Homo sapiens: one gene and its partners. The protein of the gene in region 1 purifies or fractionates together with the protein of each later gene. This does not show direct contact. Each region holds a gene or a part of one and is shown in the gene's direction. Other genes may lie near its edges.

The links.
Region 2: the proteins of DNAJA4 (region 1) and GRPEL1 purify together in Homo sapiens (affinity purification with mass spectrometry; 2 studies listed by BioGRID, with this or other methods). This does not show direct contact.
Region 3: the proteins of DNAJA4 (region 1) and TUBB6 purify together in Homo sapiens (affinity purification with mass spectrometry; 2 studies listed by BioGRID and IntAct, with this or other methods). This does not show direct contact.
Region 4: the proteins of DNAJA4 (region 1) and ENDOG purify together in Homo sapiens (affinity purification with mass spectrometry; 2 studies listed by BioGRID and IntAct, with this or other methods). This does not show direct contact.

What each region holds. Positions count from the first base shown.
Region 1 is NC_000015.10:78,267,536-78,274,563, forward strand, and holds part of DNAJA4 (dnaJ homolog subfamily A member 4), read left to right. Parts: exon of another isoform or gene 1-2,400; intron 2,401-2,961; coding exon 2,962-3,142; intron 3,143-5,559; coding exon 5,560-5,664; intron 5,665-6,122; exon of another isoform or gene 6,123-6,661; coding exon 6,662-6,889; exon of another isoform or gene 6,890-7,028.
Region 2 is NC_000004.12:7,065,065-7,072,434, reverse strand, and holds the start of GRPEL1 (grpE protein homolog 1, mitochondrial precursor), read left to right. Parts: upstream 1-4,370; 5' UTR 4,371-4,402; coding exon 4,403-4,464; intron 4,465-5,808; exon of another isoform or gene 5,809-6,255; intron 6,256-7,247; exon of another isoform or gene 7,248-7,370. UniProt on the Homo sapiens protein: Essential component of the PAM complex, a complex required for the translocation of transit peptide-containing proteins from the inner membrane into the mitochondrial matrix in an ATP-dependent manner.
Region 3 is NC_000018.10:12,303,921-12,311,266, forward strand, and holds the start of TUBB6 (tubulin beta-6 chain), read left to right. Parts: upstream 1-4,320; 5' UTR 4,321-4,372; coding exon 4,373-4,429; intron 4,430-4,766; coding exon 4,767-4,875; intron 4,876-7,022; coding exon 7,023-7,133; intron 7,134-7,346. UniProt on the Homo sapiens protein: Tubulin is the major constituent of microtubules, a cylinder consisting of laterally associated linear protofilaments composed of alpha- and beta-tubulin heterodimers.
Region 4 is NC_000009.12:128,813,992-128,821,527, forward strand, and holds the start of ENDOG (endonuclease G, mitochondrial precursor), read left to right. Parts: upstream 1-4,508; 5' UTR 4,509-4,693; coding exon 4,694-5,194; intron 5,195-5,659; exon of another isoform or gene 5,660-6,747; coding exon 6,748-6,857; exon of another isoform or gene 6,858-7,536. UniProt on the Homo sapiens protein: Endonuclease that preferentially catalyzes the cleavage of double-stranded 5-hydroxymethylcytosine (5hmC)-modified DNA.

The sequences.
Region 1 (7,028 bases):
TTTTAGGGGCAATGATGTGGGGTATATTCTTGGCTATTACCCTGTTGAGATGAGTTTGGTCTTTTGGTCAATTTCATTGTAACTTTTAGTTTGAATAATAGACTTTCAAGTTCAAAAATCAGAACATAGCAAACCATGCAGAAAATTTTAGAACACAGAGGGAAACCTACCAAGTACACATTATCCTAACCACTCTGTGCTTCTTTCCAAGCTTTCCCCAGTATGATCATACATGGCCATCCTGATACATAGACATTTTGTTTTCTTGTTTCCACTTAATATTTTATTATAAGTACTTTTCCCAAGTTGTTACGTAGTCTTCAAAGCCATTTTCCCCTCAGCTGTATAGTAATCCTGTTAAGGTTCTGTGGCAAATGATCATGGTCTGAAAGGCAAGCTCATCATAGCACTCGTCTCCCACTGGGAGAAGGGGGTCCGGGCCGGGAGCTGAATTAGACTTTGGAGTGCTGGGACCCTAGAGGATGGACTCCCTACTGGTAGTTGGAACCCCCATCCCATGTGAGATCTGGCCTCTGACTGAATGTCCCAAGCAACTGGGTACTCCTTTTCCATTCTTAGATCATTCTATTAAGTCTAAATGACATGTGAGTATCCAGGGTATTTGGTGAGTGTTTCCGGTGGACGTTCCCATGAAGTTATTTACCTAGTCCTGACCTGCAGATAGACGCAGAAACTGTCTAGGGGCAGCCTGGCCTAGTTGCTTTCTGATCTGTACCAGGCACCCAATCCTTACACTCTACCTCATGTTTTCTGCTGAGGAAAGGGATAGTAGTGAATGGTACTTACTTCTTCGCAGAAATGGTATGAGAATTAACATATCAAAAGATCTAGCTGCCTTATATATGATGCTGATGTCTTTTTAAGACTTTTCTAAATTGTAGTTTTTTAGCTATTTATTAGCTATTATTATTGGTTACTTATTAGATTTCAATCAGGGATCTGTAGAACAAGGGAATTAATGCCTCAAATTCCCTTGTTCTCTCTCTCAAATTCCTTATTTCATGGCACTTTTTTTCCCTGAATATTTTTTGGAGCCAGCTGCATTATAGGATCTGTTTATCTATATATCCATATTTGTCTCTCCGACTAAACTGTAGCCTCTGGAGGGCCAAGATCCTACCTCATTTATTTATTTCTGAGTTCCCAGAATCGAGCCATTCATCTAACAGGTATTTACCAAGTGCCTTCTACATGCCAGGCATGGTTCCAGGCTCAGTTAGACAGCAGTGGACAAAACCCCCCATCTTCATGGAGCTTATGTTGCAGTGGGGGCTACAGCATAAGCAGTAGATGATGCAGCTTGTTAGAAGGTGGTTCATGATATGGAGAAATATGCAGCAGTTGTGGGGGCTGGGAGGGTCTGAGGTGGGTTTGCAGTGTTAAAGCTGGATCACCAGGAGGCATCCCTGAGAAGGTGGTCTGTGAGCTAAGGCTGGAAAGAGATGAGTCGGGAGGCCGCACCAGGCTGAGGTGCCTCTGAGGCCCAGACTGCAGAGTTGAGGAACAGCAGGGAGCCTGCTGAAACTGGCATAGAATTGGGGTGGGGACACACAGGAGGAGAGGAAAGTACAGGTGCCAAGTTGGGCTTATAGATGAAAGTTAGGACTGGCTTTTACTCCCAGTGACGTGGGCCACCTTGTAGAGGTTTGAGCAGAGGATCGACCCAATTAGTGGGCTCGAGTGGAGAACACACTGAAAGCTGGGGTGAGGAGGGCACATGGAAGACCACGGAGGAGGCCACTGCAGTGGTCCAGGCCTGAGATGGTGCCTTCAGCCAGAGTGGATGTGGTGTGGTAAGAAGGAACAGATCTTGCATGTTTTCGCATTCTGATTTTATTTTAAAAATGTCCATATACCTGCAGAAAACATGAGTGATACAATGAACACCTATGTATTCTTCACCTAGCTTTACCAGTTATAAATAAGTTGTCACATTTGTTTTATCTATTATTATTATTACTGTTGGCTAAAGATTTTGGGAGGAAGCTACCTATAGCATAACCTTTCAGCCCTAAGTGCTGCGTGTTTCTCTTGGGCACAAGGACATCCTTGTACATAACCATAGTAAAGTTATCAAATTCAAGAAGTTTAACATTGGGAACAAAGATTCACATTTCTCCCATTGTTCCAATAATGTCCTTTGTAGCCATTTTTTTTTTTCTCCCCTGTGCAGGATCTGATCCAGGATCACACATTGTATTCGTTTTTTTCTATCTTTTAATTTTAGAGTATCTCTCAATTTGGGTTTTCTGATTCTTTTCGTACAATTGGGTTCCAGTGGTAACTTTTTGGCAGGAATGCTACACATGGGATATTGTGTCTGTCTTAGGGTACTGGAGATGCAAATGTGAAGGTAGCATCAGTGGGATTTGTTGACAGGTGAGATTGGCATTGCCAATAACTGTGATATGGGGAAGACTATGGGTGGGGCGGGGCTTTTGGGGGAGGATCAGGAGTATAGGTTTGTATCCAATGTCTGGCACGTGGTTAGATGCTCACAGATGCCTGTAGTTGAATTTCATTCTAGTAAACTAGTGAAATGATTCCCATGAGGAGGTGAGCCAGTGGTAATGCCCAGAGTCCTGGCTCTATCTGGTTAGAGGTTCACCCCTGGCACTGTCTCATGGTATCCTAGCTGGTCTCGACTTCCTGTCTGGTGCAGCCGGATTAGTGAGAAACTTTCCCTCTCTACTGGCTTCTCTCCCTTATTCTTATCGTGTCCCTACCACCAGTCCCTTAATATGTTTGCCCTGTGTTTCCCACTTTACCAAAGGAGTAGGTAGACAGGCAAGTCAGATTCCAGGTAGAGGATGTATAGACTGGCTAGTTCAAGGGTTTGGGGGCAGAATACCTCTATTACTTTGTATGTTTATATGGCAGGTTTGCTTAACAAAACAACTGAAACTTCTCTAAAAATCTCTCTCTCTCTCTCTTTTAAAGTTTAAACTCATATCCCAGGCATATGAAGTGCTTTCAGATCCAAAGAAAAGGGATGTTTATGACCAAGGCGGAGAGCAGGCAATTAAAGAAGGAGGCTCAGGCAGCCCCAGCTTCTCTTCACCCATGGACATCTTTGACATGTTCTTTGGTGGTGGTGGACGGATGGCTAGAGAGAGAAGAGGTAAATGCTTTTAAAGAAACATAAATAAGTTGTATGGTTTCCACAATTATACGTGTTGTTGGAATCAGGATAGATCATGCTTTAAAAGGATATGATTGGGCCAGGCGCGGTGGTTCATGTCTGTAATTTCAGCACTTTGGGAGGCCAAGGTGGGAGAATTGTTTTAGGCCAGGATTTCAAGACCAACCGGGGCAACATAGTGATACTCCCCATCTCAAAAAAAATAAAAATAAAAAACTTAGCCAGGCATGGTGACTCATGCCTGTAGTCTCCGCTACTTCTTGAGATGCTGAGGCTGGAGGAAAACTTGAGCCCAGGAAGTCGAGGCTGCAGTGAGCTCTCCAGCCTGCACGGCAGGGTGAGACCCTGTCTCAAACAAACAAACAAACAAACAAAAAACCCCACCAGGTACAATTGCCATGTTTTGAGATCATTAACTTTAAAGAGTTTATCACTTGTCTAGTGCTCAGGCTACCTGGAAACTCTTGGTAAATTTAGTAATTATCTGACACCCTCCAATACCATATGAAGTAGCGAATGGAGTGGTGGATAGAAAAGAGGAAGGTGAAGTTCATCGTGCCTTCTTTTCCTCTGTTGTTGGGGTCAGGCACCAGAGTGTGCTGAGGGATGTAGATGACGCCGCCTGTGGTTGTCAGTGATCCTTTACCGAGAGTGTTCCTCTCTCCTCTTGCCCACCCTCCCTTTGTGGCCCTCCATGTTCCCTGACCTGGGCGTGGGCTGCAGGCTCTCTAATTCTAGGTGGGTACTCTTGCCATGTTCAGTATGGCCTCATTTCCCAGCCTGCTCAGGGGATTTTCTAGGCAACAAAATTCATCTCTTTATGTTTTGAAATCTTTATAAATGACCTGCCTTTCTTTTCAGAATGCATTATGAGTAGTAGCAACTTCATCCCCAGGAGGTGAATGAGGAACTTCTTAGCCCTTAGCTCAATGGCCCCAGGCCACTGTTTTGACTTTCTCGGGATTTGTTCTTCCTAATTTTTCTGCATCTCACCTCTGCCAGGCTACGGGCTGTCACCTCTGTTGTTAGTAGTTGCTAATAGACTAGTTCCCATTCCCCCTGTTTAGTTTACTGTTGTCAGGCTGCTTTGGATCTTGAAACCAGAAAGATAACCAAGCGTATTACAATTCTGGATAAAGTCAGAAGAAATGAGCTCTGCCTTGGGGTTTAAGAAGTGTGGCTTTGGTCAGTGAGAGGCCCCTAGATAAATGAAGCTGCACTTGTTATCACATTGTAATTGACTTTGAGCTTGAAAAAGCTTGGGTGTCAATTCTGTGAACATAGAGTGCTGAAAATCACAAAGTGTTTATTAGGGAAAAATCCTTCCTCTGTCCTTTGAGCATATCGCCTGCTCCTATAATTGATGGTGTGGACATGATAAAACCTTGGGTACTTTGGGAGGCCGAGGTGGGTGGATCACGAGGTCAGGAGATCGAGACCATCCTGGCTAACATGGTGAAACCCCGTCTCTACTAAAAAATACAAAAACTTAGGTGGGCGCGGTGGCAGGCGCCTGTAGTCCCAGCTACTCGGGAGGCTGAGGCAGGAGAATGGCGTGAACCCAGGAGGCGGAGCTTGCAGTGAGCCAAGATCGCACCACTGCACTCCAGCCTGGGGACAGAGCAAGACTCTGTCTCAAAAACAAAACAAAACAAAAAAAACCTTGGGTATTCTCTTGTCCAGCTCCCTCACTGTCTTGAGATGAAAAACTTCATGCCCTTAATTAAGTCATCTCTCAAAGTTGGCAGCCAGTAAACCAGGACAGCTCATCTCAGTGACTGCAGGAGCTCCACGGGCAGCAGGGAGGGTCTTGATGCTGTCAGTCTTGACAGGCTGGCAGGTGCTGGAGCACACCCCCACCCTGTGGACTGAACACCCACTGTCCTGAGTTGCAGAAGCAAGATTTTGGCAGAGGAAAGAATTCCCATTTGGCCACCGGTTACAGAAGGGCTCAGAAAGTAAAGTGCTTTATGCCCAAGGAAGTGAAAGATCCAGAGACTTTGGCTGCCAAACATTTATGTATAGAAAGGACTCCTTTCATGGGGAAACTTAACCAATTTCGTGGGTTAATACTGCCTTTGGTTTCTCAATTAGTACTCTCCTTGTCCTCAGATTTGTTCTCAGAAAATAAAGGTGGAAAGTCTTTTTGTTGGCCTCTATAAATGATTGAATAATTAGCTCATAGCTAGAGAGGGTATTAGCTCTTGTTATTGGCTGAGGGCCAGAAGGATGGGCTGGGGTAATAGAAGCATTGCTTCCTGCAGGGAAGGGAGCGCATGACCCAGCCACAGTCTTGAGTCTCTGGAGACTTCATACAACTAAGGGTCATATGGGTGGTATTTAATACAATGGTATATTTCATTCAACGCCACTAATTTTTTTTCTCCCTTGCTAAGGCAAGAATGTTGTACACCAGTTATCTGTAACTCTTGAAGATCTATATAATGGAGTCACGAAGAAATTGGCCCTCCAGAAAAATGTAATTTGTGAGAAATGTGAAGGTAAAAATTAATTTTTGACTGAACCGCACAGTTCTGATCCCTTAGATTCAGAAACAATGCTTGTTTTATAGTTCAGGGAAAATAAGTTATCTTTTTTCAAATGCAAGGGTCAAGCAGAGATTACAAACAGGTGGCCTGAGGGCCACACTTCTTTGCCTGAATGAATGTTTTCTTTGGGCTGCACCTCTATTTGACATGTTGACAATTATTTCTTTTTATGTTTTTGTATTTTTTATTTTTATTATACTCTAAGTTTTAGGGTGCATGTGCACAACGTGCAGGTTTGTTACATATGTATACAGACAATTATTTTTAAAAATTAAAAATCAGACACTTGACCTCATCTAGGGGTTGGCAGACTTTTTCTGTAAAGAGCCAGATTTTAGGCTTTCCAGGCCATGGAGTCTTTTGTAGCTAGTTCACTCTGCCGTCATAGTACATAAATGAATGGACATGCCTATGTTCCAGTAAAGCTTTATTTACAAAACCAAGCAGTCTGGCCATGGTTTCTTGACCCCTGACTTAAATGTATATATAATTATTGTAATTTTTAAAAAACCTGAGTTTTCAAGAAAAGCCATGTCTGGTGACCCCAGCCTCACATTGTCCCACAGAGAGAATTGGCTGAGCTGGGTAGCTGCCACTATTGACAGAGCTTGTGTTGTCTAGATCGCCACAGCCCCAGCCTCCTCATTCATCTGTGGGCCTATGCGAGTTCCACCTGGGGTGGAAGAAAACACATTTGATGAAGCTAAAGTAATAAATTTGGATTGGTGCAGCCAAAATCACAAACGTTTGAGGTCAGATGTTAACATCTGGATGTTGTCTGCTTGGCTGGACTCCTCCAGACTCTTCTGCATTGTTTTTTATTATTGTAAATAGAATTCTAAGCCCATTGTCCAATGTGAGGGTTCCCTACCCTTCTGCCATGGCGCCCAGCAGGGACACTGGTAAGGGAAGAGCATGGCCCTCATTCCTGCCTCCCCTGACCCTGCAGGTGTTGGTGGGAAGAAGGGATCGGTGGAGAAGTGCCCGCTGTGCAAGGGGCGGGGGATGCAGATCCACATCCAGCAGATCGGGCCGGGCATGGTACAGCAGATCCAGACCGTGTGCATCGAGTGCAAGGGCCAGGGTGAGCGCATCAACCCCAAGGACCGCTGCGAGAGCTGCAGCGGGGCCAAGGTGATCCGTGAGAAGAAGATTATCGAGGTACATGTTGAAAAAGGTGAGGCTGCGCAGAGCTGGTGCTCCACACGGGCTGGAAATGCTGTCTGGGTGCTAATCGTGAGATACACAGACTAGATGTCAGGGAAGTGAGCTGTATCACAACATGTATTGGGTGTGCCATGAATTCCTCTTGTTTC
Region 2 (7,370 bases), on another chromosome or scaffold:
TTATGCTGCTGTTTTTTCTTACCCAGAACATCATTTTCGGTTTGGAACCAGCATGCAAGGGGGAAGGAGCGGTGGCTCTGCTGCCAAGCTGTCAGTTAACCCTTTTCCAGGCAAGTCTCTTAACCTGGGAACCTTAGTTTCTTCTGCGCGATGGGTCCAGGGATGTTGATTATAGCAACTAAACAAACAGAAGCAGACCAAGAATAAGGCAGGCACAAGGGTGAGAATGGGAACCAAAGGTTTATGATAAATAAACTTGACTACCAAAGTCCAAAATAAAGATAAAATGGGGAGAAAAAAAGTAATGCCTGCCCCACAGGGTTATTATATGGCTGAAGTGAATTAAACTGGGTTCTGCACTCCAGGTCTTACAAGGTCTAAATCAAGGTGGTGGCTGGAATGAACTCTTACCTGGAGGCTCTGGAGGAGAATCCGCTTCTGGGTGCATTCAGGTGGCCCTGAAAGTCCAGCTCCTGGTGCCTGCAGACCTGGGGTCCTCATTCCATGGCTGGGGGCCACTCTCTGCTCCTATAAGTCACTCACACACCTTCTCACACAACCCCTTCCTCCTTCAAACCAGCAATGTTAATTCCAGCCTTTCTCACACATTGAATTTGACCTTCTTTTCTGCTGACAGCTGGAAAAGCTCCCTGCTTTCATTAGGCTCATGAGGTCAAGCCCACCAGATAATCTCTGATCTCAAGGTCAGATGGCTTGGGACTTTCATTCCTTCGTCAAAGTCCCTGCACAGCAGCACCTAGGCTAGTGTTTAACTGAACAGCCAGGGGTACGAATCAGTGGGCCCACCTTTAGAATTCTGTCTGCCACACCCATCATATCGTATCTTTCTAAATTTGCTTCTTTCAAAATTGAATAAAAGGATGAAAATCCACGCCCTCGCCAGAGGATCACAGCAATGCAGCTCATGGCAGCAATCACCCTGCGCTGGACACGTGTGGGTTCTGGCTTCAGCCTTGACGCAGAATCTGGGGTCAGGAGAAATACACAAGAGTTCTGCCTTCCTTTCACCCACATGACCTTGTGCAAGTCACCTAACCTGGCTGAGCCCGGTCCCCTCCTCGCCACAGATGGGCTGATCCACAAGAGGACATCTTTGAAGCACCCAGCACACAGCCTGGTACCCCGGCAGTGCTCAGCTGCTATGAGCACCGCGCCCACGGTCGACAGACTGTCAGACCATCTGCACGACCTTTTTTTCTTTTTAAAAACACCACTCAATCCTTGTTAGGGGCACCACGTGCTGTACAGTCGGCTCTTCCGGCACCCCCAGTCCCTGGCTAGCCCACCCATGCCCATTGCTGGACATGTGCTCAGACGACTGATCCAAGAGTCTTCCATACAGGCAGCTTCACCTCCACGTGAAGATAACTTGCACTGTGGTGCAGTTCCAGACCTCAAGGAGCTACCTGACCAGGTAGGTTCCCAAGAGCAGACTGCCTTTGGAGCAGTTCCTGAAGTGGCCACGAGGTGGCAGGCCTTTCCCTGGCAGATCAGAGAAATCCCGCAGTTCCAGATACAGACACAGGGCAGGGCATGGCCTGGCCTCAGCGGAGGTTCACAGTCCCCAAGGTGGCATCCCCTCTGGGACGACCTGTGCTTATCTGTCTTGAGGCACAGCAGCTACAATTCTTCATCAGGATCGGAGCTGCAAGACGCCCATCTGATTCCTTCCGAGCCCCAAAGGAAGGAAATGAACATGTTTCTTTTTTAAATCTCACAACAAATAATGTCTCAGTTCTACAGGTGAGCAGATCCAAGGTTGAAAGCAATGAAGTTACTTGGTCACAGCCAATAAGAAACATGAGATACTGTTTTGTTTTGTTTTGTTTTGTTTTTGTTTGTTTTTTGAGACGGAGTCTTGCCCTATTGCCCAGGCTGGAGTGCAGTGGTACCATCTCGGCTCACTGCAACCTCTGCCTCCCGGGTTCAAGCGATTCTCCTGCCTCAGCCTCCCGAGTAGCTGGGATTACAGGTGCCCGCCACCATGCCCAGGTAATTTTTTTCTTTTTTTGTATTTTTTTAGTACAGACGGGTTTTCACCATGTTGGCCAGGCTGGTCTCGAATTCCTGACCTCAGATGATCGACCCGCCTCGGCCTCCCAAAGTGCTGGGATTACAGGCATGAGCCACTGTGCCCGGCCGAGACACTTTTAAATTTTATTGCAGAAAGGCTGGGTGTGGTGGCTCACGCCTCTAATCCTAGCACTTTGGGAGGCTGAGGAGGCCGGACTGCTTGAACTCAGCAGTTCGAGACCAGCCTGGGTAACATGGTGAAACCCCGTCTCTACTAAAAAGACGAAAAATTAGCCAAGCATGGTGGCACACACCTCTAATACCAGCTACTAGGGAGGCTGAGGCATGAGAATCGCTTGAACCGGGAGGCAGAGTTTGCAGTGAGCTGAGATCGCGCCACTGCACTCCAGCCTGGGCAACAGAATGAGACTCTGTCTCAAAATATATATATAAAATAAAATAAATTTTATCGCAGAAAACTACAAACATATGCAAAAGAAAATCGTCATAACTCCTATGGCATTCATCACCCAGCTTCAACCGTTACTAACATTTGCCACTTGTGTTTCACCTGTCCTTGAATTTTTTTTCATGGAGAATTTACAAAGCGAATACCAGACATAGGGGCAATTTGCTGTAAATACTTCCGTTTGCATCTCTAAAGGTTAGGACATTTTACCCACCAGCCGTTACTGCTCCCTACCAAAAGTATCGATACTCCCAGTTTTCATCTAATACCCAGCTTTATATTCCAATTTCCCCCACCTATCTCTCAAATGCCCCGTTTAAGCTAGTTTATTCTATCATGATCCAAGTAAGTTCCACACATTCCATTCAATGACGTCTTTTAAGCTCATTTATTCTCTAATAGTTCAGTTCCACTTTCTTTTGTTTCCTCCAGGCTCGAATTAATTATATTATCATCATAATTATACTATTATCTTAATTATTGGTATTAATTGACACGGTCATTTGTCCTGTACAACATCCCATTTGGGGTTTAGCTGTTTGCGTCTTTCTGCAAGGGGCATATTACCTGGCAAACAGTAGGTATTAATCAGCATGGGTTGAATGGTTTCAATGGCAGAAAAGCAAAAGAATAAAGGTTTGGTCCTTTACTCAAGTGGTCCTACATTCACTAATGTAACAAGCAGGCAAAACTCCGCTTGAGAAGCCACCAGCTCGCGCCCTGGGATCCTGGGGAGGGCATGGGCTCCAGCCCTGGGATCCCGGGGAGGGCACAGGATCGAGCCCTGGGATCCCGGGGAGGGCAGGGACTCTAAGTCTGGGATCCTGGTGAGGGCACGGGCTACAGCCCTCAGATCTTGGCCGCCAGAACTGCACTCCAGGCCACGCGGTGCTGAAGCGGGAGCCAGGCCCTATCTCCTGCGGGAACCCCGCTTGGGGGCCGGCACCGGGGCCATAAGAACACGCGGCCCTCTGTTCTTGGGGGTATGCGCTACAGCAGCATGGACCTCGGTCAGGTTATGAAAACGTGTGCATTTATGAGCTTTAGTTGTGCCCCAATGTTTTCTATGCGCTGTTCTTAGTCTGTTTTTCGTGTTTTGAGAAAACTGAAGATAACAGAAAGGTACAAAACACACGCCCATATTCCCATCATCCAGCATCAAAACCGCCAACATTTCGTCCCATTTGTTTCCCGGGTTTTGTTTCCTGTTTCACCAGAAATCACTGGTGGAGACGGAGACCCCAGTGCCTTCTCTCCGCCTCGGGCGCCTGGAGAAGCAGCTTCGGGGTCGGGGCGCCCTCCCAAGCGGTTGCCTCCGCGGTTCTCAAGCAACTACGCCGCCGTTTGGGTGGCGCTCGCGCCGAGACTTCATTTTCATTTAGCAAACATGGAGTGCTCCGCGCCGCTCTGGAGCCGGGGTGTGAGGGTGAACAGGGCTCCCCACGCTCGTTCCCAGAGCAAAGGAAGGCCCGCGGTGTCAGCGCAAGGGCGGGTGCGGGCCGGGAAACGACAAGCTGCCGCCTCACTCCTACCCAAAACCAGGCTCTGAAGTCCCTCCCGGCCCGCGACGCGCGCGCCCCACCCCGGCGCTGGCCCCGCCCCCTCACGCTGCCTCCTCATTGGCTCCTCCCGGCATCGCCACGCCCACAGGAGGCTCCTCCCAATGCTCACTTCACCTTTCACCTCTTCAGGGCCTCCGGTACGCCTCAGGCCCCGCCCACCGGGGGGTGGGGAAAGATGCTCTTCCGTGACCCACAATTATTGGTGACTATTGCCTGTCCATAACAGGAAAAGCGATTACGGATTGGCTGAGGCGAAGTAGTAGGGCAGAAAAGTGGGTATAGCTGCCTGCACGCACGCTTGGTGCGTGCGCGGCGACTGCGACGGGCAGTGGCAGTCATGGCGGCTCAGTGCGTGAGGTTGGCGCGGCGCAGTCTTCCTGCTTTGGCGTTGTCTCTCAGGTAAGGGGCACTTGGTCTCCCTGGGTGGAGGTGGCAGCGCGACCTCCCGCTCCGATGGGGGCCTTTCCCGGCCCCGGGGCCTCCTTCCCGGCCTCGGCCCCGGAGCTGGGCATCTCCGGGCTCGCGGTTCCCCGCCGCGGGACGCGGACCGCCCCGCTGGGGCCTGCTCTGCTGCCAGGCTGCCAGCTCAGGGCTTGGGAAGCGTGGAGCGGGCGGGCGCCGTGTCAGGAGGAGAGGACCGCAGCGCGGGGGGCGTTTGGCTCGGAAGGTACGGTGGCCCACGTGCGCGTGTGGTCCAGGGCCTGCGGCGACGCCTCGCGCGCATTCACGGTCTCGGCGCTCACGGGCGCAGAGGCAGCCGCAACTTGTGCGGTTGAAGAAGCGACCAAAGAAGCTCGAGCTTTGTCCAAGGTCACGCAGCGAGGCCGAGCCGGGCCGGGTGTGCCCTGGGCAGGAGCTGTGGTTACTCATTTCCGTGCCGCAGCTCGAGGCCGGGGCCACAGCGGTGCTCGGGAAACTTCGTGTCGCAAGGTGCGTGTTGCCCGTTCACGGGCTTTTTCCACTCGACCTCGAATTCCTTCACTCCGCCTTCTCCAGCGTCTGAGGTCAAAAGAGCAGTCGAACCTGTGCTGCTGCTGGGCGAAGAGTTTGTTTAGACAAGGGCACATTTCGGGCCTGAGGGCCACGAGACAGTGCCCCTTTTTTTTTTTCCCCTCAAATCTGCCCCTTCTGCTTTTTGAAAGTTCTACTTTAGAAGTTAGTATGGCAAGTACTTGCTGGAGGAAGTGCCTAGAACCAAGTTATTGATTAGAGAAGCCACTGAGGGCCAAATTGGCCAAAAGCTGGGCAGTGAGATGTAGTTCTTTCCTGAAGGAGAGCAGGCAGGTGAGGTGAAGATCACTTTCAGTCTAGGTGATTAAGGGGTAAGTGCTAGCTTAATAAATTATATCTTAACAACACAGGAGCCAAGAGCAACGACCCACGTGGAATACTTGAGTAAAAAGACTTTGGTCAAGTAATTGGTGGTTTTGTATTGGAATTAATTGCCAGGAAAGTGACCACCAAGTCAGCATCATTTCTGTCTCTAGAATGGTAGTTTTGTGGAAAGATGCTCAACTAGGGAAAGGCAGGAGAACTGACTGGTAGTCATAGCTCTCAGAGTAACTAGGCTTTCTGAGACTCAGTTTCCCTCTGCAGAACGAGATGGCCCCGGGTGTGGGTCCTGTTGCACATTCCTGGCCACACTTTGTGTTGGCTGTGCTTCGGAAAGGGGTCTGTGAAGAGCTGACCTGCAGAAAGGCTGGTGGCTGTCACACCCCCAGGCAGAACAACTGGAGAGGAAGGTGGGCTTCACAACAGTACACTCAGTTTTTATTTAAATTCTTAGCTTTTTAAATTCACAAGAGTAAAAATATAAAATGGTCATCGCTCTCCACCCCCATGGCAAGACTGTAATGGAGGCTTCCACTCCACTTCTTTCCACAGATCTAAGATATTAATAAGTACACAGGATTTCTAGTTTGTCTTTACAAAAATAGGATCCTGTTTTGTGTATTTCTCTGTAAGTTGCATTTCTTAACAGAACATCCAAAGTGTATCCAATAAATGGCAGTTTAACTCATTTTTAGGAGCTGCATAATATTCCAGATTGTGTTAGCAAGTTTATTCAACCATTTGCTCGCTGACAAACATTGTTTCCAACTTGTCGCTCGCAGTGCTGCAATAAACAGCCTTGACTGAGTTCTGTGTGCTGGCAGCCTTCACCTTCCTATTCGTTGAAGCAGTTTTAATCTGGGAAGAAAATTGAATGTAGCTTATTCTCAGATAGGACTGTGGCCTAATTTAAAAAGAGGTCCTGGCCGGGTGCGGGCGGATCACGAGGTCAGGAGATCCTAGACCATCCTGGCTAACACAGTGAAACCCCGTCTCTACTAAAAAAATACAAAAAAATTAGCCGAGCGTGTTGGTGGACGCCTATAGTCCCAGCTACTCGGCAGGCTGAGGCAGGAGAATGGCGTGAACCCGGGCGGCGGAGCTTGCAGTGAGCCGAGATGGCACCACTGCACTCCAGCCTGGGTGACAGAGCAAGACTCCGTCTCAAAAAAAAAAAAAAAGAGGTCCTCTGGTCCTGGTGAAGAAATCTAGGTTTTAAGACTTTATTTTATCATTCGTTGATGGCTTTGTGACCTGGGCTTATCACTTGGTCTTGGTCTATTTCACCGGTACATATCCCATGCTTTCCTGTCTTCATGCCTTTGTCCAAGCAGTTTCATCTTCCTGAAGCTGCATCTATCCCATTGTCCCACCTCTGATCCCTTTTTCGTAACTCTTACCTATCCTACAAAGCCTTTCATGGTTTTCCATTCCCCAAGCTAGGTATCTCCTTCTACTCTGAGCCTCCCAAAGCACAAAGCACTTAGTTCCCTTTTTTTTTTTAATCACTTTTTTTTTTTTTTGAGACAGAGTTTCCCTCTTGTCGCCCAGGCTGGAGTGCAGTGGCGCGATCTCAGCTCACCTCAACCTGCGCCTCCCTGATTCAAGCGATTTTCCTGCCTCAGCCTCCCAAGTAGCTGGGATTACAGGCATGCACCACCACGCCAGGCTAATTTTGTATTTTTAGAAGAGACGGGGTTTCTCCATGTTGGTCAGGCTGGTCCCGAACTCCTGATCTCAAGTGATCCACCTGCTTTGGCCTCCCTAAGTGCTGGGATTACTGGCGTGAGCCAGCGAACCTGTCTTAATCACTTTTAAATCACAAATTACTGTTCTTTGTGTTTAGATACCTTTTTTTTGCAAGATCTCTGCTGGGTCTATCTTTGTCATCAGGATCAGCAGTAGGCCAGCCTCACTCTAGTAGTAGCTATTCCATAAGTACGTGGTTAGGTCTGGGCAGACTGTCTCAGTCA
Region 3 (7,346 bases), on another chromosome or scaffold:
CAAAAATTAGCTGGGTGTGGTGATGTGCGCCTGTAATTCCAGCTATTCGGGAGGCTGAGGCAAGAGAATCACTTGAACCCGGGAGGCGGAGGTTTCAATGAGCCAAGATTGCACCACTGCACTCCAGCCTGAGCGACAGAGTGAAACTGTGTCTCAAAATAAATAAATAAATAAATATGAAACGCTTCATGAATTTGCATGTCATCTTTGTGCAGGGCCACGTTAATCTTCTCTGTATCATTCCACTTCTAGTATACTGCTGCCAAAGCAAGCACGAAATATTATTTTGCAAAAGAATTAGAACCCAAGAGAATACATTTAACTTGACTGCGCAAACACAGTCTAGTGTTTAGCAGATCCCCGGGCCGCCTTTATAAACTTTGACTCCCCCATTTGTAACCAAGACTGCTCAGGCCGACTGACCTAAGAACACCATGGATCATGGTTACATTCATCCGCCCATCGATACTGGCCCCTGTGCCCACTCACCAGATCAGGAGGACCATGGCTGCTCTTTCCGGGAGAACCTGCAGAGAGTAAATTCTGACAACGCTTCACTGAAGGCGCCAGATAGCAGGAGAGCTTATTCTCAGCCTAACTCAGAACTGATGCCTGCTTGCCTGGCTTGCTGCTGGGAGCCGCAGGTTCCCTTCCCCAGCGAGGCAGTGGGGAGCAGGAAGTGTGTTCCAGTCCTTGAAGTCCACGTGGCAACTCCCAGGGCCTAGAGAGAGTCAACACTGGGGCACCCCAGCCTTCCCAGCCTCCCCATGGCACCCTCCCACTCTCCACTTCTTGTCCCGGCCTCTGCCTCTCCCTGCACAGTTGGCAGGTGAAATATCCACTTCTTTCTGGAGAAACTCCATATTTTATCTACCAAGAGGAACGTCACATAAAAACACCAGGGTCTGATGTCATTCATTTTTCCAGATTTGGGGGTTTAGTTGAAAATAACACCACTCACGGCCATTACCAGCCTAGTTCAAGAGCCCCATTGGCCCCTCCGGGTCCCCTTCCCCAGGGACTTCTCAGCATTTGGGGAGGACGAGACCCTCCTGTCTTATTCCTTGGTGCAGCCCAGAAAAGGGCGAGAGAGGAAGAAACACTCATCAGCCATCTCCTACGGTCCAGGTGTGTGTAAACACCAGCATTCAAATCTGGGCAGTGAGCCCGGAATCCTCTCTACACATGCATGAAACAGAAGGAGGCGTTCAGAGAAGCAAGACTGTGATCTAAGGCACAGAAGAGACGGGCAAGAGGAGGAGGAAAGTGAGCAGACAGGAGTGCACGGGTAATGTGGCTCGCCCAGAGCACCAAGTCATGAACGCCATCACTGCCTTCGACCCAGGTGAGGGGCCTTGTCCTTGCCTGCCCCCTCCCTACAGGGCCACTGGGATGAGCCCACAGCTCCTAGATGGCACCTCAGCCCCCCGGACCTCAGGAGTCCCTGCCCAGACCTCCCCAAACCTACTCCTAGGGCCCCTTCTTCCCGCAGGGTGGCCTGGGATGGCTGTGAGTGGCTGAGGACTGAAGTGTCCACAGGCATGTACTGGAGACCCATCTCGGCGTGGGACAGAATTGGAGGTGGGGAGAAAGGCGGGTGTTGAAAGTGAGGACTGCAGGCTGAGACCAGCCCCCGCACTTCCACGCCCTGATGCAAATCAACGAGGAGCCCAAGAAGTCTACCGATTTCTTTTTTATTTTATTTTATTTTATTTTTATTGAGACGCGGTCTCACTCTGTCACCCTGGCTGGAGTGCAGTGACATGATCACAGCTCACAGCAACCTCCACCTCCCAGGTTCAAGCAATCAATCCTCCCACCTCAGACTCTGGAGTAGCTGGGTACAGGCATGTACCACCATGCCTGGCTAATTTTTTAACTTTTTGTAGAGACAAGGGTCTCACTATAATGCCCAGGCTGGTCTCGAGGTCCTGGGCTCAAGCAATCCTGCCATGTCAGCTTTGGAAGTTTTGGGATTACAGGCGTGAACCACTGTGCCCGGCCTAGCCTGAGAATTCTAAACTGGAACCTGGCTTTCCAGATACCATGGTGTATTTTTTAAGGTAGGAGAAGAGAATGTGTCCTCTACGCTTTTTTAAGTTTGGTTTGCGGCTTGTGTGCATTTGGACACACCGCGTCACAAACAGCCTCGCCCAGGAGGAGTGAGGGCCACAGATCGGGAGGGTAGGGGGCCCAGAGCCTGGAGAGCCCCAGGCCGGGCTCACAGGTCAGGGTTTCACCTGCCGGCTCCCAGAAGGGAGTGGCCAACAGACACCAGGGAAGTCAGGGTTGGGATTCAAAGAGAGGCCAAGGCTGCAGAGAGACTGGGAGCCACTTTAGGAAAGAAACGTGAATTCAGGCTTTGCACAGCAGAACTGTCCCCATGTCCTGGGGAGGCCTTGGTTCATTCTGCGGGGAAATCCCTTGTGTCTTGCGGGGCCCCGCCTCTGATGAGAGGGAAGGGAGATAAGCTTTGCAGGGGGAAGGTTTCCTCCCGGTCTCCTCACTCTTCGAGCACTGAGTTTCTCCAGACAAAGCGCACTCCGCGGGCACCAATCCCTGCAGACAGCGCAGAGCGCACAGCGAGCAGGAGCCCAGAAACCAGCAGGTCGGCTTGTCCCTTGTCAAATCCAAGTGACAACGGACTTCCGGAAGCCACGCTGACACCTACTTTCTGGCTCGATCAGACCCCTGGACTTAAATTCCAGCCCAAGGGCTAGCACTGAAAGGGTGGCTATTTCAGCAAACGACCAAAGCTTCTAAAGTAGACACTTTCTTTTAAACCACTTGATGGCTGGATTTCTTAGAGAGAGAGACTAAAGCTGGAGGAAGGGTTCTTCCAGGGATGGCACAGGCCCTCCGCTCTCGGGCTCCCCACACTAGACTTCGGGCCGGCAGGATGGGTTAAGGTAGCACTCGTTGGAGTCAATAATTAAGCAATGGAAACAAACAGCCTAAATAAGGGTGTTGAGGACTCAGGAGAAGGTGGCTGATTAATCTCAGGCTCATAGTTTGAAATGGGAGCGCAGGGGCTGGGCTGTGGCCTCCTCATCTGCTCCCTGGGCGTGTGGCTGTGTAAAGAGGTGTGGGGACCCACAAGAAGGCCGAGGAGCAGCACTGGGGTGGAGAGAGCAGTGGGGAGGCGGGGACCCAAGGGTTAAAAAAAAAAATTCCTCAATTTGGAAACATTTGCAAAACTCCAGAAGAAAAACTTTTAAAAGTTCTCCACTCCCTTCCAAACGTACAAACATGCACACACACAATTAGGAATTTCCCAAAGTTTTCATCTGTCTAAAAAGAAAGTGCCAGTGCAAATTACAGAACATCGTCGCTTCCTCATGTGCGGCGTTTCTACGGGCCTGGGAGGGGACGCAGAGGCTACCCCGGTGGTCCCAGCCTGCAGCGTTCACGTGAGGAAACTTCCGCAAAAGCCCTGATGCATGCACATTCTGACTGCAGAGGCCAGAGCATCCCGCATTTTGGAGGCTGAAAGGCTCCCCTAGGATAACCTTTTCCGTTAACAGAGGAGTCCGCTGAAGCGCAGAGCTAACTGAAAACAGCTAGAATTAAAATCCAAGTCACCCGGCCGGCATCAGCAGTCATTCCTTTCCACCACACAAAACTGGCCAGGAAGACGGACTCTGGCGCGCCCTCCCAGGCCGAAGCGCATTTCTTCGCTAACGCGCGAGGAGTAGGCTGCATAGACCCGGCGCAGGAGGTGTTCATTTTCGGATCCAGCCCTGTAGTCACTTTAGCTAAACCCGGTTCCAAAGGGGTGGGAGTCGTCGGAGAGGAATGGCCTCTGTATCTCCGGAGACGGAAACACCAGGACGAAGAGGCCCTAAGAACGTGTGCCCGGGGTGCGACCGGGGGGTGGGGGGCAGGGGGCAGAGACCCTGAAAAGCTCCACCGCCGAACCCCAGGGCAGTGTCCCGGCTTGGCTGGACTGGGCGCGGGCGGCTGCAATGCTCCCGGGCGCGGCGCTGGGACCCCGCGGGCCACGTCGGCTCCGCTGCCCCGACGCCAGGGCCCGACTCGCGTCTCCCTCTGGCGGGGCACCACAAGGGGCAGCGAAACGGTGGTGGGGGCGGGCGCCGCGCTCCTTCCCGTCTCCTCCCCGCCAGCTCCGGGCCCGTCCTTTTCCGCCCGGCTCCCGGCAAGGGTCCCCCGACTGGCGCCCGCGCGTCCTCCCTCGGCTGCTGCAGGCCGGGCCGCGGCGTCGAGCGGGGGCGGCGGGGCGGGGCCCGCAGCCATTGGCGAGCGGCGGGGCGGGGGCGGGGGCGCGGAGGGTCGGCCCCGGGACGCGCGCAGCCGGCCCGCAGTTGCCGCTGTCGTCCGCAGAGCCAGTTCCTAGCGCAGAGCCGCGCCCGCCATGAGGGAGATCGTGCACATCCAGGCGGGCCAGTGCGGGAACCAGATCGGCACCAAGGTGGGCCTGGCGCGGTGCAGGGCCTCTCCGCGGGTCGGCTGCTGGCGGGCCCCGGGTCTCCCGGCGCGACCCCCGCCGGGGCGCGCACCCGCTGTGCGCCCCTGGGTCCTCGGAGCCCGGTGCGGACCCGCGAGGGCCGCAGGGAGGGAGCGCCCGGGGCGTGGCCGGCCGGGGACCTTCTACTCTTCGCTCCCCACCCCCATCCCAACTGGGAGCGGCTGCCGGCGGCTCAGGCGCGCCTGGAATTCGGCCGCCGGGGCGCCTGGGGTGGGCGCGGGTGGCGGCGTCCCGGGCTCTGGGTTCTGAGCGTCTGTCCCCCCGCCTTGCCCTGCCCAAGTTTTGGGAAGTGATCAGCGATGAGCACGGCATCGACCCGGCCGGAGGCTACGTGGGAGACTCGGCGCTGCAGCTGGAGAGAATCAACGTCTACTACAATGAGTCATCGTGTGAGTAGCAAGGCCGCCGCGCCCTGCCCGGCCGGGACCCGCGTGGACGCTCCGGCGCCGCCTCTTAGCGCGGCGAGTTTGCTTCGGGAAAAGTTCTCTCGGGGTGTAGCAGGATGCCCGGCCACTCCCTTCGCTCCTCCGGGGCGGGAAATCCGCCGTCAGTTTATTCAAACAGCTCGATTCAGCCTATCCTGAGGGTCTGAGCGCTTGAACGGGACCACCCGTTAGCGTTGTGAAATCAACGTAGCGGTTCCTGCCCAGCCTTCTCTGTCTAGCCGGGCGCGGTGGCTCAAGCCTCTAATCCCAGCGCTTTGGGAGGCCGAGACTGGAGGATCATTTGGGGCCAGGAGTTCAGGACCAGCCTGGGCAGCATAGGAGACCACCCCCCGCCCCCCTCCCGCCCCGATCTCTACAACAATTTTAAAATTAGCCGGGCTTGGTGGCCCACCCCTGTAGTACCAGTTAACTGAGGGCTTGAGCTCAGGAGGTCGAGGCTGCAGTGAGCTGTGATCGCGCCACTGCACTCCAGCCTGGGTGACAGAGCGAGACCCTGTTAGAATAAATTAGAGCGTTTCTCAAGGATCCTTGGGAAAAACAAAGCTTCCCCCCCCCCCCCCCCAGTTTAAAACGTATCTCTTATTGGGGATTCTTGGCTAAAAATTTGAGAAACGCTCTCTTAAGTGACTTTTCTGGTCCCTTGCAGACCTCTAAAAAGACTTTAACCTCCCTGGAAGCTGAAACTCCAGGCAGTTCTCAGCAACGAGTGGAGTTTTATTCATTTACGCAGCAATGACAAAAGGCTGGGAACATCAGGGCATGGAAGATGAAATTTCTAGAGGACACTAAGGATAGTTCCAGTATACACTGCACTTCATGTTAATCCCTCACCCAGCTTGGGTACATCCATTTTCGATCTTGGCGAGTGCACTGCAGGACAGGAGTTGAAGAGCAGGTCCTATCTGGAATCATATTAACCGTGTCCTCACCGGGAACAAGTTCTAGCCCAATTGGCATGAAATTTCCACACAAGAACACTCTGACTCAAAATGAGAGTGACTCTGGGGAAACAGCCAGTGGCGTGCTCCGGGTAACAAGGTTCTCAGACTGCACATGGGCACATGTATGTGTATGCATGGGGGAGGTGTCACAAAGCAGAGAATTTCATCCAAACCTGGCAATTTGCTGTAAATACCTAGTTTATTTCCATGGAGCTAAAGTTGTAAAACTTCCTAACAGGAAAGAGGTGTCAGGGTGAGCTGGAAAATACAGTAGGCAGGAAGTCAGGGGACTTGATTTCTCATCCTGCCTCTTCCTGGAACCTCCTCTGCCAGGTCATGCCTGGACTCGTTCCTCATTCCAGTGTTAAGGTTCTAGGATTTTTTTTCTTTCTTTTTTTTAAGAGACAGGGTTTCGGCCAGGCACGGTGGCTCACCCCTGTAATCCCAGCACTTTGGGAGGCCGAGGTGGGCAGATCACAAGGTCAGGAGATCGAGACCATCCTGGCTAACACGGTGAAACCCCATCTCTACTGAAAATACAAAAAAAATTAGCCGGGCGTGGTGGTGGGCACCTGTGGTCCCAGCTACTTGGGAGGCTGAGGCAGGAGAATGGCATGAACCCAGGAGGCGGAGCTTGCAGTGAGCCGAGATCACACCACTGCATTCCAGCCTGGGCAACAGAGCGAGACTCCATCGCAAAAAAAAAAAAAAAAAGACAAGGTCTCACTCTGGAGTACAGTGGCATAACCATGGCTCACTGCAGTCTTGACCTCCTGGGTTCAGATGATCCTGCCACCTCAGCTTCCAGAGTAGCTAGGACTAGAGGTGCACACTACCACACTTAGCTAATTTTCTTGGTTTTTTGTTTGTTTGTTTTTAGAAACAGGGTTTTGCTCTGTTGCCCAGGCTGGTCTTGAACTCCTGGGCTCAAGCGATCTGCCCACCTCAGCCTCCCAATGTGCTGAGATTACAGGGATGAGCCAGTGCGCCCAGCCAATTCTGTGATTCTAAGAAAGTTCCTGTACCCTTTCTGAAAAGACCCTGGTTGATCCATTCCAGGCAGCTAGAACTGGTGGGACTTGAAACGGGGAAGTCAATTACTTTAGAAACCTGAAAGTAACTCTTGTGGGTGGTTCTTTTCTCCTCCAGCTCAGAAATATGTGCCCAGGGCCGCCCTGGTGGACTTAGAGCCAGGCACCATGGACAGCGTGCGGTCTGGGCCTTTTGGGCAGCTTTTCCGGCCTGACAACTTCATCTTTGGTAGGTTCCATCTTTCTCACTTTCTTCTTCTTCTTTTATTTTTTTAAATCAAATATTTTATATGCCAGATTTAAAGCATCATGTGTCATAGAAAAAGTGTGAATGGAAATCAGTGGTTCCCAGCCCCACCCCTCCCATCCCTAGCTGGGTTCATCACAAGGAACAGTTTTTTTTAAATCTTGACTTTTTTGGTGGGAAGGAACCTCTATATCT
Region 4 (7,536 bases), on another chromosome or scaffold:
GTAGCGTAGAGTAGACTTTGTTCTGGGCCTTCACATTCACTCCTCAGTGACCCACGCAGAGCAACTTCCTGTCCCAGAAGCTCCATTCATGGTAAGCGCTTTATACAGACAGGTGTATCATTCTTTATTTTTTATTATTATTACTTTTTTTTTTGAGACAAGAGTTTCTCTCTGTCACCCAGGCTTGAGTGCAGTGACACTACCTCGGCTCACTGCAACCTCTGCCTCCCGGGTTCAAGCAATTCTCCTGCCTCAGCCTCCCCAGTAGCTGGGAATACAGGTGTGTGCCACCACACCCGGCTAATTTTTGTATTTTTAGTATACACAGTGTTTCACCGTGTTGGCCAGGCTGGTCTTGAACTCCTGACATTGTGATCCACCTGCCTCGGCCTCCCAAAGTGCTGGGATTACAGGTGTGAGCCACCTAGCCTGGCATACTTTTTTTGGTTTGTTTTTTTTTTTGAGATAGAGTCTCGCTCTGTCGCCCAGGCTGGAGTGCAGTGGCACGATCTCAGCTCACTGCAACCTCAGCCTCCGGGGTACAAGGAATTCTCATGCCTCAGCATCCCAGGGTAGCTTGGATTACATATCTTTATGTGATGCATGATTATATTTGCAAACCATACATCTGATAAGGGGTTAATATCCAAGATATATAAGTACTTAAAACATCTCAGTAGCAGCTGGGCATGGTGGCTCATGCCTGTAATTCAAGCACTTTGGGAGGCGGAGGCGGGTGGATCACCTGAGGTCCGGAGTTCAAGACCAGCCTGGCCAATATGGTGAAACCCAGTCTCTACTAAAACTACAAAAATATTAGCCAGGAGTGGTGGTGGGTGCCTGTAATCCCAGCTACCCAGGAGGCTGAGGCACAAGAATCACTTGAACCCAGAGGCGGAGGTTGCAGTGAGCCGAGATCGTGCCACTGCACTCCAGCCTGGGTGACAGAGCAGGACTCTGTCTAAAAAACAAAAACAGAAACAAACAAAAATCTCAATAGCAAGAAAACAATGTGATTTAAACAACACGCAAAGGACCTGAATAGATATTTCTCAAAAGAAGACATACAGCACTTTGGGAGGCTGAGGCAGGCGAATCGCCAGGTGAAGAGATCAAGACCATCCTGGCCAACATGGTGAAACCCCGTCTCTACTAAAAATACAAAAATTAGATGGGCATAGTGGTGTGTGCTTGAACCCAGGAGGCGGAGGTTGCAGTGAGCCGAGATCGAGCCACTGCACTCCAGCCTGGTGACAGAGCCAGACTCTGTCTCAAAAAAAAATAAAAAAAGACATAAAAATTTCTGGCAACTATCTGAAAAAATGCTGAACAATGCATGGATCATCTGGGAAATGCAAATTAAAACCAAAATGAGATACCACCTCACACCTGTCAGAATGGCTTATAAAAAAAAGACAAGGCCGGGCGTGGTGGCTAACGCCTGTAATCCCAGCACTTTGGGAGGCTGAGGCAGGTGGATCACGAGGTCAGGAGTTCAAGACCAGTCTGGCCAACATAGTGAAACCCCATCTCTACTAAAAATACAACAAAATTAGCCGAGCGTGGTGGTGTGCACCTGTAATCCCAGCTACTCAGGAGGCTGAGGCAAGAGAATTGCGTCAACCTGGGAGGGGGAGGTTGCAGTGAGCCAAGATTGTGCCATTGCACTCCAGCCCAGGCAACAGTGCGAGATTCACCCTCAAAAAAAAAAGGAGATTCTGTCATTTGTGACAACATGGAAGAACCTAGAGGACGTTACGGTAGGTGAAATAAGCCAGGCACAGAAAGACAAACACGACATGGTTTCACTTATATTCGGAATGTAAAACAACTCATAGAGGTGGAGAGTAGAATGATGGTACCAGAGTCTGGGGATTGGTGGGAGTTGGGGCGGTGGGGAATGGGGAAATGTTGGTCAAAGGGTACAGTTTCAGCTAGACAGGAGGATTTTTTTTTTTTTAATTTGAGACGGGGGTCTTACTATGTTGCCCAGGCTGGTCTTGAACTCCTTGGTTCAAGCAATCCTCCCACCTTGGCCTCCAAAAGGGCTATGATTACAGGCCTAAGCCACCATACCCGGCCCAGGAATGTTTTTTTTTTAGAACTATAGCATGGTATGGCCAGGTGCGATGGCTCACACCTGTAATCCCAGCACTTTGGGAGACTGAGGTGGGTGGATCATCTGAGGTCGGGAGTTCGAGACCAGCCTGACCAGCATGGAGAAACCCTGTCTCTACTAAAAATACAAAAAATTAGCTGGGGATGGTGACACATGCCTGTAATCCCAGCTACTCGGGAGGCTGAGGCAGGAGAATCACTTGAACCTGGGAGGCAGAGGTTGTGGTGAGCCGAGATCACGCCATTGCACCCCAGCCTGGGCAACAAGAGCAAAACTCTGTCTCCAAAAAAAAAAAACACAAACTACAGCATGGTCACTATAGTTAATGTATATTTCAAAATTGCTGAAAGTAGCTGGGTATGGTGATACACCATAGCCTGTAGTCCCATTTACTCAGGAGGCTGAGGCCCACAGATCACTTGATCCCAGGAGGTCAAGAACAGCCTGGGCAACAAAGCAAGACCCTGTCCCATATTTTTTTTTGAAGCAGAGTCTCACTCTGTTGCCCAGGCTGGAGTGCAGTGGCATGATCTCGGCTCACTGCAACCTCCGCCCTCCAGGTTCAAGCAATCCTCTTGCCTCAGTCCCCCAGTAGGTGGGATTACAGGCACGGTCCACTATGCCCAGCTAATTTTTGTATTTTTAGTAGAGACAGGGTTTCGCCATGTTGGCCAGGCTGGTCTCAAACTACTGACCTCAGGAGGGCTTAGTGGCTCATGCCTGTAACTTTGGGAGGCCAAGGCAGGAGGATCACTGGAGGCCAGGAGTTCAAGACCAGCCTGGACAACATAGCGAGGCCCCATCTCTATAAAAAATTTAAAAGTTAGCCAGGCATCATGATATGTGTCTGTGGTCCTAGCTACTCGGGAGGGTGAGGCAGGAGGATGGCTTGAGCCCAGGAGGTCAAGGCTGCAGTGAACTGTGATCTTGCCACTGCACTCCGTGTGGGTGACAGCACAAGACCTTATTTTCCTTAAAGGAAAAAAAAATGCTAAGAGTGGCTGGGTTGGGTGGCCCATGTCTATAACCCCAGCACTTTGGGAGGCCAAGGTGGGTGGATCACAAGGTCAGGAGTTAGTTCGAGACCAGCCTGGCCAACATGGTGAAACCCATTCTTTACTAAAAGTACAAAAATTAGCTGGGCGTGGTGGCGCGCGCCTGTAGTCCCAGCTACTCAGGAGGCCGAGGCACGAGAATCGCTTGAACCAAGGAGGCGGAGGTTGCAGTGAGCCTGGGCGACAGAGCGAGACTCCGTCTCAAAAAAAAAAAAAAATTAGCTGGGCCTGGTGGTGCGCGCCTGTAATCCCAGCTACTTCAGAGGCTGAGGCAGGAGAATCACTTGAACCTGGGAGGCAGAGGTTCCACTGCGCGGAGATCACGCCATTGCACTCCAGCCTGGGCAATAGAGTGAGACTCCGTCTCAAAAAATAAAAGTCCTTAACCAGTCCATATTTCTGAATATTTTGCTTATTCCTGCCGGCAGTGTAATACTCTGGTGAATATTTGCGTTCGAGATCCTTGCATTCCCGAGATTTCCCCAGCTCAGCCCTCTGCGTGGGTTGAACGGTATGAACCTTTTTAAGGCTTCGCTTGTACTGTACTGTCAAGCTGTTTTTTGGAATATTCGCCCCAGGTTTCTGTTCCAGCCAGCAGCCAGCATCAGCCGTCTGCATCCTTGTCCTCAAACTGCTGTTAATTAAAATCTTTGCCAATCTGGGCCGGGCGCGGTGGCTCACGCCTGTAATGCCAACACTTTGGGAGGCCGAGGCCGGCGGATCGCCTGAGGTCGGGAGTTTGAGACCAGCCTGACCAACATGGAGAAACCCTGTCTCTACTAAAGATACAAAATTAGCCGGGCGTGGTGGCGCATGCCTGTAATCCCAGCTACTTGGGAGGCTGAAGCAGGAGAATCGCTTGAACCTGTGAGGCGGAGGTTGCAGTGAGCCGAGATCACGCCATTGCACTCGAGTCTGGGCGACCAGAGCGAAACTCCGTCTCAAAAAAAAAAAAAAAAAAAAAGAAACCTTTGCCAATCTGGTAGAATTGCGGGGCTTATTTTATGGTGTCATGGAGGATAGCCTAGGGCCAGATATACCTGGGGCCCTGTGCCTGCTCTGCGAACTAGGAGCTCACTCTCCGAGCGGTGTAGAGGGTGAGACTAAGCAGTGACAGTAAAAGCTTTCGACAGTGCTTGACCCTTCCGCGGAGCGTATTAAGCAGGAGCTCCCTGCGCAGGCGCAGAGGAGAGAGTGTCTCCCACCCCACGACCAGCAGGGGGCCTGCGAGGCGGGTGCGGAGCCAGGCCTGATGGTGGCCAATCGCGAGCTGAGGCGACGATGCCACGCCCCTCATACCGGCGTCTTAAATGCGCAAAGAAAGGACGCCGGGGACACCCGGTTGGGCTCTGCTGCTCCCTTCTGGGTTCCGAGGCCCAAGCCCTTGGCAGTGTTTGTGAGTGGAAGGGAGGTCACGCTATCGTCCGCGGCCCCAGCAGCCCTGTGCCCTCGTTGGATCCCGCGACGCGGCTCCTTTAAGAGCCTCGCGGGTCGCCCGCCGCTAGGTCGCTCCCCGGCCATGCGGGCGCTGCGGGCCGGCCTGACCCTGGCGTCGGGCGCGGGGCTGGGTGCGGTCGTCGAGGGCTGGCGGCGGCGGCGGGAGGACGCGCGGGCGGCGCCGGGACTGCTGGGCCGGCTGCCCGTGCTGCCCGTGGCGGCGGCAGCCGAGTTGCCCCCTGTGCCCGGGGGACCCCGCGGCCCGGGCGAGCTGGCCAAGTACGGGCTGCCGGGGCTGGCGCAGCTCAAGAGCCGCGAGTCGTACGTGCTGTGCTACGACCCGCGCACCCGCGGCGCGCTCTGGGTGGTGGAGCAGCTGCGACCCGAGCGTCTCCGCGGCGACGGCGACCGGCGCGAGTGCGACTTCCGCGAGGACGACTCGGTGCACGCGTACCACCGTGCCACCAACGCCGACTACCGCGGCAGTGGCTTCGACCGCGGTCACCTGGCCGCCGCCGCCAACCACCGCTGGAGCCAGAAGGCCATGGACGACACGTTCTACCTGAGCAACGTCGCGCCCCAGGTAGCGCCCGCGCCCCGGGCCGGTCGCGGAATGCGGGGCCGGCGCCTGGCCTCGCGGGGCCTCGGTTTGTTCTTCTGCAGAACGGGGCAGCTGCCCAACGCGCCCCCGGTCAGGCATCGCAGTGACATCCCGTGGCGGGAGGGAGGAGCACTGGGCTCCAGGCACAGGGTCTGCAGGCCGACCAGGGCTTGAGCTTCAACTGCGAACCCTGGGCACCTCCCTGAGCGTCGCTTTCCTCGTCAAAAAAATGGGGATAATACCGTTATTCACCTTCCTCCTGCGGTAGTGATGAGGCGCTGAGGCTCACAGAGGCAAAGTGACGGGCACAGTGTCACACAGCAGAAGAAGGCTGTCTGTTGTAGAACCGCAGCGCCCAACCTATTGGGCACCAGGGTGCGGTTTCGTGGAAGACAGTTTTTCCACGGCTTGGTGGGTGAGGGCGGGTTTCAGGATAATTCAAGTGCGTTACATTTATGTACATTTTATTTCTATTATTATTACATTGTAACATATAGTGAAATATACAACTCACAGTAATGTAGGATCCGTGGGAGCCCTGAGCTTGTTTTCCTGCAACTAGACAGTCCTATCTGGAGGTGATGGGCAACAACGACAGATCAGGCATTAGGTTTTCAAAAGAAGCGCGCAACCTCCTCACATGCGCAGTTCACCATAGGGTTCCAGCTCCTATGACAATCTCCAGCCGCCACTGATCTGACAGGAGGCGGAGCTCAGGCTGCTGTGGGATCAATGGGGGGGTGGCTGTAAATACAGATGAAGCTTCCCTTGCTCGCCTGCTGCTCACCTCCTGCTGTGTGGCCCGGTTCTGGTACCGGTCTGTAGCCCAGGGGTTGGGGACCCCTAGTCTATAAAACCGTGAGCCTCCAGACATTGTCCTACCCTGCCTGCCTTCAGGCAGTTTCGAGGCAGACACCTGGCCCACGATCAGGTTGTTAGTGCCAGGCACTGTGCACTGGGCCAACCACCCTCTCAGCCTGTTCCCAGCAGGTCCTGGCACCAATGGATGGAGACTGCCATGGGGCTCTGGGTGGAGCCCATGGGGCACCAACCTCTGACCCAGCTTCCTTCTGGGAAGACAGCCCCCTATCCACTTTCCATTGTCCCAGGCCTGGAGAGCTCAGGATGGAGGTCGATTCATGGCATTCCCCGCTAGGCTCTTCCTGTGGCTCAGACTGGGAAAAGGAACGGGTTGGTAGTTGGAAGGGCTGGTCTTCCCAGGAGACCCTGGGTGGGGCTGGGGACAGGCCTCAGTCCTCTCTGAAAGGTGGAGACAGGCTCTTCCTTCATTCGACTCTTGGGAGCTGAGAAAAGACTTTGACACCTGGGCTGTGGGAGGGACAGAGGGTGGTGGCTAGCACTCTATCAGCCCTGGGTTTCAGGGAGTGACTTTCATTCCTTGAGCCTCAGTTTCCCCCCGCTTGTCTCACTGGATATCTCTGAGCCTGTCCATCCCCTCAGGACCTGGGGCGGCCCTCTGATAGAGGAGGAAGGGTCCCAGCCACAGTCCTGCTAAGCCCTATCTCTCCTACCAGGTGCCCCACCTCAACCAGAATGCCTGGAACAACCTGGAGAAATATAGCCGCAGCTTGACCCGCAGCTACCAAAACGTCTATGTCTGCACAGGGCCACTCTTCCTGCCCAGGTAAGGTGGAAACCAGGGGGGCGGCAGAACCTCCCACTCACCTGAGGCCCCTACTGCCACTCACAGGGCCAGGCTTGCCCCAGGCTCTGGGTCAATACCAGTTCCCTACTCATCTGGTTTCTTGGCAAGCCTGTCAGCTTCCCTGCCTCGAGTCCCCTCATTCCACCTCCACAGCCAAAGACCTGTCGGGTACCCCTGACCATCTCTCCTCTGCCCATGGGCAGCAGCAGGCCCTGAATCTGCCCCCGCTTCTCCCTGCTGTCACCTCTTGGCATGCCCACCCAATCTTGTTCTGCCAATATGGAACCCCCCGCAGGTCTGCAGTGCACCAAGCTCTCCCACCTTCCCCCCGCAGGTCTGCAGTGCACCAAGCTCTCCCGCCTTCCCCCTGCAGGTCTGCGGTGCACCAAGCTCTCCCACCTTCCCTCTGCAGGTCCGAGGTGCACCGAGCTCTCCCGCCTTCCCCATGCAGGTCCCCAGTGCACCGAGCTCTCACGCCTTCCCCATGCAGGTCCCCAGTGCACCGAGCTCTCCCGCCTTCCCCATGCAGGTCCCCAGTGCACCGAGCTCTCATGCCTTCCCCCTGCAGGTCCGCGGTGCACCAGGCTCTCCCGCCTTCAGTCTCTGCTCTGCTTGGAGCACTTCCCTCCACCCTTCTCGGGAGTTTGAATCTAGATCT